Regions from separate parts of the Homo sapiens genome. Here region 2 is reported to be linked to region 1. The links are microRNA targets in miRTarBase. Many come from high-throughput screens and were not tested one by one. Region 1 holds a microRNA gene; the other region holds the end of a gene's coding sequence.
What was found. Region 1 holds the annotated microRNA hsa-miR-432-3p (CUGGAUGGCUCCUCCAUGUCU, at 1,624-1,644, opposite strand). A microRNA usually pairs through its seed, bases 2 to 8, with sites in the 3' UTR of a target mRNA and lowers its output. Matches are read on the target gene's strand: a 7mer-m8 pairs with bases 2 to 8, a 7mer-A1 pairs with bases 2 to 7 and ends in A, and an 8mer does both.

Region 1 (4,549 bases):
AACTCAGAAGTAACAAAAGGTGTTAAATTTATAAAGAGCAGTAGCTTTACAGTTAATCTATCAGATAATCAAAGCTTAATTTGCTCTGCCCCAGCAGAGAAGAAATGTGCAAATAACCCCAACCAAGACATTCCCTTTCAATTCTGTCTCAGCCCACTAAAACCACCCAACACTAGATTTCCAAAAATCCACTCTGGGACCGTCAGATTCCAAAGATGTCACATGTTCCCCCCAACCCCCACACTCAATGTCCCAACTCTGCCAGATACATGTCTGTTGGGAGGGCTCAACCAGCAACAGAGAGAAAAAGATATTTGCTAGAAAGAGGAGACCAGACCCACTGGCGTTAAGAAGGGGACCTGGGAGGATAAGATTGGAGAGGCGTGCAGATATGCTTGCACTGGTGAAATTGAGGCCAGATGTGTGAAGTTCCAGAAGCCTCACAAAGAGGGCAGTCCTGGGAGAGTGGAGATTGTAGGAAGAGAAGGAGATTATTTGAAGATCTCCTCAACAGCTCAGAGGTCGGGAGAACATAGCATTGGAAGGAGACCAAATCGAGAAAGAGAAATTGGCCAAAAGTCTGAGTTAGAATCAAGTAACAAATATGCAGTTATCCAGCACATAGTAGGTATGTTATAAAATTTATGGAAAAAAAAAAAAAAAACCCAGACCTGTACACACCCCCTGAAATTTCTATTTTGAACATGGGGAAGGAAATAAGAACTATTTTGGGCTGCTGACCCAACTGACGGGACAGTGGCCAAGTGCCCATTTTCTCCTCTTCCACTGCACTGGTGAAACAGTAGGCATCTTTGCTAGAGATTCCCGCTCCACAACCAAGGTGGCTGGGCTTGCTCCAGAGCCCTGAGCCTGCCAGGGGTGGCTTTGGATGGTGCTGAGATGTGACCTCTGTGATTCTCAGGTGACCAAAGCAGGAAAAGAGGATTGACCAGGTGCATGTGCCAGGGGGGAATGGAGCAGCCTGTGCACCCTGCCAGGTACCCGCCTGCCACGGTGGCTGCTCCCAGCCACAGAATTTATGGGCTGTGAATTTCTCACATCTATGGAGGAAAAGGACAGGACAGGCAGACTGAATAAGCCTGGGAGGCAGGTCAGGGGTTGACAGATCTTCCCTCCCTGGGGGCACCCCAAGTGACCAGCCAAAGAGGCTGGCTCGATACAAGAAGGCTTTCCCCCATTTCTCTCTGCTCTGATTAGTTGGGCATCTGATTTGTCCTTGAGACCCTGATACTGCCACTTCACAAGATCCTAAACTACTGCCTTTACTCCCCACACTCCCCTTCCACCACCAGGTTCTGATCTCCACGGTCCCAGCTACTGACTGGACGCCATCACAACCTTACCAATCTTCAGAATACACTCCTTTCCATCCGACGAAATGATAGAACCCTCTGAAGACTCATTTGAGACGATGATGGAGCATAAGAATCCATCATCAAAACAAATGGAGTCCTCCGAGGGCTCATCCAACACCACCGAGGCGACGTCGGGCAGTGGAGTGCGGGGAGAGGCAGGGCCAGCCAGCGGCCCAGCCCAGGAAAAGAAGGAGCCCCCCAGTGGCCCACTCCAGGAAATGGAAGAGCTGCCCACTGATCTACTCCAAGACATGGAGGAGCCATCCAGTGGCCCACGTAAGGAAATAGAGGATCCACCCAATGACCTACTCCAAGACCTGGAGGAGTCATGCAACGGTTCACACCAGGCAAGGGGGGATCCACTCAGTGGAGCATCTGATAGGATGAAAGAAGCATCAGTCAACCCATCGGGAGCCCGAGAAGAACAAGAGGCTCACACTGACCTGAAGGAATCGGGAAGGGAGGAGACTCCTCAAGAGCAAAACCAGACCGAGCACTCAACCGCAGAACTTATGGCCATGGTGAGGTCCATCATCTCGCTGTACTTCCGAATGCAAGACCTCAAAGAGCAACAGAGAGTAGCAGAAGAGATCTTGATCAAAGGGATCAATGCAGGCCAACTGCCCGCCCCAAAGCACTTCTCTGGCGATCGCAGAGAATTCCACGAGTTCATCGTACTCTGCCAACTGACCTTACAGAGCTACCCAAGAATGTTCTATAACGACCGTCTGAGAGTTGGCTATGTCATCAATCACCTGTCCGGCTTGGCATTAGAATGGGCCAAAGCTCTACTGCAGGAAAACAGCCCCCTGATCGGAGACTTCCCAGCCTTCCTGGAGGCCATGTCCGAAGTGTTTGAGTACCGCCAGGCACTGCGTGTGGCAGAAGAGGCCATGTTCACCATCAGGCAGGGCGGCCGCTCTGCCACTGAGTACATCGATGAGTTCCAGAGCCTGGTACCCATCTTGGGCTGGCCAGATGAAGTCCTGCAGGCCCACTTGTGCCAGGGGCTCAACGAGGAGATCAGGCACTATCTATTCCGGGTCCCTCAGCCGGATTCCCTAGACAGTCTGATTGTGCTCATCCTGCAAATAGAAGAGAAGCTGGCAGAGAGAAGAGCTATGCTCAGGCTGCCCCCCGAGGCCCGCCCCCGGAACCTGACCTGGATCGACTCACCTGCTCCAGAGAGGTGGATGGTCAGCAGCTGGTTGCCCAGCGAAGTCCATCCGGACATCAATCGCGCCCACCTCTTCCTGCTGCTCATGGTGAGAGTGAACCCCTACCACAGCGTCGCGGTCCAGGCCCTGGTGGATTCGGGAGCTGACGGCAACTTCATGGATGAGAAGTTCGCCCAAGAGCACTACGTCGAGCTCTACGAGAAGCCGTACCCACAGCCGGTCCAATCCGTGGACGGCTCGCTGATTGGCAACGAGCCTGTCTGGCTCTACACGGAGCCCCTGGTGTGTATCCACCAGAACCACCAGGAGTCCATCGAATTTGACATCGTACCTTCACCGAACTTCTCTGTGGTCCTAGGCATCCGCTGGCTCCGAGTCCACGCCCCCGAAGTCGACTGGATCAAAGGCCGCTGCACCTTCCACTCTCCCTACTGCCTGAAGAACTGCTTCCGCCCGCCCCCGCCATGCATTGCCCTAGAGAGGCACGGCATGAGCCTGCTACCCGGACTGCCACACCCATACTCAGACCTGGCCGACGTGTTTAACCCGAAGGAAGCAGATGATGAGACTTCCGACCAGCCAAGCTCAGACGGATCCGATGATCTTTCTGAATCAGAGCCCTCTGAGCTTCAGCAGGCTGGAGACAGTGATCACAGCGAGACCTTTTACGAGTGTCCCTCCACCGCGCCTTGGGAACCTGTGGGTGCCAGGATGCAAGAAAGAGCCAGGCTACAGGAGGAATACTGGGACCTGCAGGACATGCTGACCAACAGACAGGACTACATACAGATGATTCCGGAACTGTTTGACCAGTTACACGGAGCCGAGTGGTTCACAAAACTGGAGCTGCGTGGGACCATTGTGGAGGAAAGCGTGAACGGGCACCGCACCGAAGATGTGTGGAAAGCAGCGTTTGGTTTGGAGCTTGAAGAGATGAAGAGCTACCAGCCGTTTGCGCTCTCCCCAGACCCTATCATACCTCAGAACGTGATTCACTTCATCCTAAAGGACATGCTAGGGTTCTTTGTGCTTTCTTATGGCCAGGAAGTCCTGATCTACTCAATGAGTCAGGAGGAGCACCTCCACCACGTCCGCCAAGTCCTGGTCCGCTTCCGCCATCACAACGTCTACTGCTCCCTGGACAAGAGCCAGTTCCACCGCCAAACCGTGGAATTCCTGGGCTTCGTCGTCACCCCCAAAGGGGTGAAACTGAACAAGAACGTCATGACCATCATAACAGGGTACCCTACCCCTGGCTCCAAGCTATCTCTGCGAAACTTCATCGAATTCGTCTTCCCCTACCGCCACTTCGTGGAGCGCTTCAGCATCATCGCAGAGCCCCTGGTGCGGCAGCTGCTGAGCTCCTACCAGTTCTACTGGGGAGTCGAGGAGCAAGAGGCCTTCGAGTGCCTGAAGAGGGCTTTCCGCAAGGCGCCTCTCCTCCACCACCCCAAGCCCCAGAACCCATTCTACTTGGAAACCGGCGTCACCGGCACGGCCCTGCACGCCTCCCTGATCCAAATCGACGACCAAACCGGCAAGAGAGCCTGCTGCGCTTTCTACTCCCGCAACATCTCCCCTATCGAGGTTGAGTACTCTCAAGCGGAGATGAAGATTCTTCCAATACGGGCTGCCTTCATGGTGTGGTGCCGCTACCTGGAGAACACCGAGGAGCCCATCATGATCCTTCTCAACACAGAGGATCTAGCCTCTCTGAATAATGACAGGCTCACCGTACTTCTCCCCGGGCATTGGGTCTTCTTCTTCTCCCACTTCAACTTTGACGTCATGGAGCTGCCAGAACAAGACGGCGGCCGAGCTCTGCCACCTGTGAGAAACCTCCGGTGGAGGAGAGCCTTCCAGAGGAACACTGCCGCCAGGCAAACCCTGCTGCTGGCCTCAAGGGGATTCCCCAGGGATCCATCGACGGAATCCGGGGAAGAAGAGAATGAAGAACAGGATGAGCTCAATGAACAGATCCTACGGCAAGAGCTG
Region 2 (4,000 bases), not on the chromosome of region 1:
GCAGTCCGGCCGGCGAGATAGTGAGTGCAAAGTCTCACACAAATTGAGTCAATAGAAGTGACCCTGAACAACTGGGCTATTTCATAATTTAAGTTTATCAAAGAGAGACTTTAACATCCTCTCCCTCCCTCCCCTGAAAACCCAACACTGATAATATAGATTTTATATTGATCACAGGACACTACACAACAAACACAAAGACACTACACTTCTAGTAGGACGAGTCACGATTTCCTTTGATGTTGGGCTATGGAATAGCTAGAAAGTTACTGCTCATCACCACAGCAGGGTACCATGCGAGTGGATAGCTTAATAAATGCATTCATTAGTTAATGGCTTTAAGGGTTAGCTATTATATATATGGAATGAGGAAACCTCATTAGGAATGGCCACAGTCTCAGCAAAACTCAGCTCTAAATATGCAAAGACTTTGAAGTCCTGCTATTAACAAGATGACATGAATTGTAAGAATACATTTGACAGGCTCTAGTAAGACCCAGCAGATCGTCCATGACCTGTGCAAAGGCACCCCACAGTGGCAGATGGAACTGGCAAGAACTTGGTAGGAAACGTGTCACACATCCCCACAATAAAATGATACTTCAGAAAGACAGACAGGGGTGTCCTTCCCATGATAGTGGCAAAGAAGGGATCCTGGGTCGGGGAAGTCGATGGGAAGGAAAGAAATGGAAGGTGGGTAGAAGAGTAAAATAGGGGTTGTTGCATCCCAGATGCTGCCCAAGCTCCAAACTACCAAGCATTCTGCACTTCCAGAGTTACCTGGTGTGAGGTGAGGAGAGGGATGGGATGGAGGCAGCTTGCTGGACAGGGGGTGACTGCAGGCTGGGGAGGGGCTGGGAAGGGGTTGGGGACAGCTGAGGACTCAAATGACACAGAGGACAGACCACATACAAGACTCAACAAGGGGAGATCTGGCAACGTGCAGGCTAAAATGACCAAATCCATAGCAAACTCAGAAGGTTCACGTTCCCGAAAGGGTGTCACTGCCAAATCTCCACCTCATTTTGACACTTAACCTACAGAGTATGAGTCGCAGTAGAGTTCAACTGCTCTCATTGCAGCACGTCAGGGCAAGATATCCTTTTTAAGGTATAGTATTATATCTAGCTATATGGATCTATAGAGATATTTACAACTGGCCTCGCTGCCCTTCCTCTGTGCTGTGAAGCCTTCATGTGCATTGCTTCCAGACAAATCTTAAAACCCTCCTTTTCTTCACACTGCTCCAATCTCCCTTTATGACTTTATCCCAAATGAACTGCTTGCCACCACAGGGTTGAAAGCACCTCCAGGGTGCTGGAGACCCAAATCCACGTCAACCAACCAATGCTTAGGCTCCAGGAAGCCAGCCTTTCAATAGCCACATTGGGAGCTTCAGACATGGAGTCACTGCTCTCCCCTCCACCTGAATCTCTGTATGGGGTATCCAAAAATAAAGAGGCAATTTTAGCTCTTCCAGTGGTAACTTTCTTGTTTTCAACTGTCGTACAAGATTTGTGTGTGTGTATGTGTATGTGACTGTACAAGTGTCTATTCTCAATGCCTCTTTCAGCCTCACTCCCCAGCCTGTTACCCCGAAACATGTTCCTCTAGGACAAAGTGAAATGCTCTGTACTTGCAGCTTCTTCCATGGATTAACCACTTCCTACCTCAAGGCACTAGCTCACCACTTCTTAGGACTACATTCACTTCCCCAGTCTTCTATCTAGGAGACAGCACAGATGGATGGAGGGACAGGGCAAACAGTGGAAGGGAACTGGGAGATGCTGCTCCCTGGAACAGGAAGTTGGAAAGAAACAGTCAGTTAAGCAGCCCGGCCAAATAGGGCCCCTCCACCATATGGGAGCAGGCCAAGGGAATTATAGTGGTTCTAGAAGGGTCACCAACAGGGAATACATATGCTTTCAGGGGTATTTCCTTTCACACCCATTCAAATCAGATAAACATAGATATGCAGACATGCCCTTATATACATGCACTCAGCATAGACCCATGTGTACACAAGCATACACATACATAAGCCACACTTTCACAGGGATGTGCACACACACGCATGCATCCACATGCTGTAGATACAATTCTGTACACACCAATGTAGATTTACACCACTAGACACGGCACTATGCAGCTTCTCAAATGGTTGTATATGTACATACACCCACCCTGCTGCATATGCATACACCCAGGTATATACAGAAACACAAACACAGAAGCACAGTTAAAGGGTGAGTGGGTAGAGGGGTAAGGGACTGAGGGAGAGACTGCATAGGGAGGAAGAGGTGGCATATGTTGAGTGCTCGGCAAAGTTCACTCCCTCACAACCTCCATCAGTGAGGTGGAGCTGCTTGGCAAGTTGGAATGCTGGCCAATCCTACTTCCGTTAGGGGCCCTGCTCAGTGGGCAGAGTGTGTTCTCCATCTGCTCACGTCACGCTCATTGGCTGGTCACCAGCCTATTCCTGCAGAGATGCCCCAGGTGCTAGAGGATGTGGTGGGGGCCCTCTGGAGCACCCTCTTTAGGGAGGGAAGAAAAGGAAATGCCTCAGTTGGGACAGTCAGGAGGAAAAAGACAAGAAAGAGCAAGTGGGGTGGATCTACCACTCACTGGCTGCATGTCCTCAAGCATGCGGCATAAGCTCCATTCGTTTTCCTTGGAACACTGGGGACAATGTGCTTTGCCTTCCCTGGCTTACAGGGCTCCTGTGAGGCTCCAGTGATGTAATGGGTCAGGGAGCTTGTTGACACTTACTATGCACTAGACAAATAGAAAGGATTAGTATATAGACTTACGATAGATATTCATCTGCTAGTCTAGATCAGATGGTAAAATAGCAAGTGTGAATTATCCTAACCTTAGTGCTTATTCACCAAGTGCTGTAACTGGTGATCAACTCAGCAACTGACGGAAAGCTAACTCCTGACTTAGACAGATGTATTGAGTCTCTATTGCCAAGCGTTCTGAAGCAGAAATATAGGCAAGTTCCAATCCCTCCGAAGAGGCCAGCTCAACTGTGTAATTTCCAACCTGACATCACCCCCCACCCTCTGCCAACCCCACAAGCTGAGTATGTGCTCTCTCACCCTGATGTCTCACTCTGCAGCCCCATCCACCCACATTCCCCTTCCACGCTTGCATCAAAACACCACAGTCAAATGCCATACAGTGGGGGAAAGGCACTTACAAATGCTCCCTAAGTTTCCTATAGGAAGTTCCCTGAACTTCTAAGCCATGGCTAGCCCTTTAGCTATGAACCCCAGCCCAACCCAGCTTGACTTTCTTCTATAAAGCCCTAAGCAGAGGGTGAACAAGACCCATAATCCCTAGGAGGAAACAAAAAAAGAAGAAAACATGTAATGAAAAAGAAATGTTGACACCTCAAGGGGGACAGAAAAGCCCCCCAGAAATGTTTGTGGGCAAAAGGCCCAGATCCTTGCCCCATCCCCCAACCTGGCTCTTCTCTGTCCTCTAAACATTTCCAGGGGCTTTTCTATGCTTATTCCTTGTTACAAGTCTTTGAAAAGGTGAGAGTCTTCTAGCAGGAAAGGAAATCCATGTGCTGTATACCTCCAACTCCTCCTCAATCCCTTCCCTTCCAGCTAGAACATGTTCTTTCCAATTACTCCCCACCTCATGTTTATAAAGAGAAGTATGAACTTATTGGATTGCCCAAATAACCACAAAATAAAAGGAACAAAGGAAAGAGGGAAAAACAAACCCAAAAGAAACTGAAAGGAGCACAGCACAGTGCTCCCGCTGTTCTGGAGCACTGGGGGACTAATACATATGGTATACCCAGTAAACAATGTTGAACAACCCAAAGGCCAGAGGGAAGAGGAACCGGGACCACTTGTCGACCTTTGGGACGTAGTCAGGATTAAAGAGATCGAAGGAGAACCCTTCAGTGAAGGAGCACCCAGGGCTTGGGGGGCAACTATCCTCAGACTCTGAGCTACTGTCCTTCTCTTGGCCATGGGCCATG

Region 2: the mRNA of GABRQ is a reported target of hsa-miR-432-3p. Seed matches in the 3' UTR shown: 7mer-m8 at 1,744-1,750.

What each region holds. Positions count from the first base shown.
Region 1 is chr14:100,881,639-100,886,187 of GRCh38, reverse strand. It overlaps MIR432 (microRNA 432), which reads right to left and starts at 1,705; the gene lies at 1,612-1,705. RTL1 (retrotransposon Gag like 1) reads left to right here. Exons shown (of 4, transcript NM_001134888.3): 4 at 1,314-4,549. The coding sequence starts at 1,400. MIR433 (microRNA 433) reads right to left here and starts at 4,302; the gene lies at 4,210-4,302. It overlaps MIR127 (microRNA 127), which reads right to left and starts at 3,209; the gene lies at 3,113-3,209. It also overlaps MIR136. RefSeq lists a silencer at 202-496.
Region 2 is chrX:152,653,077-152,657,076 of GRCh38, reverse strand. It overlaps GABRQ (gamma-aminobutyric acid type A receptor subunit theta), which reads right to left. Exons shown (of 9, transcript NM_018558.4): 9 at 1-4,000. The coding sequence ends at 3,796. All of the region lies in intron 2 of MAGEA3-DT (MAGEA3 divergent transcript), which reads left to right. Among named protein-coding and RNA genes, the nearest start is that of GABRQ, 17 kb to the right of the region's middle.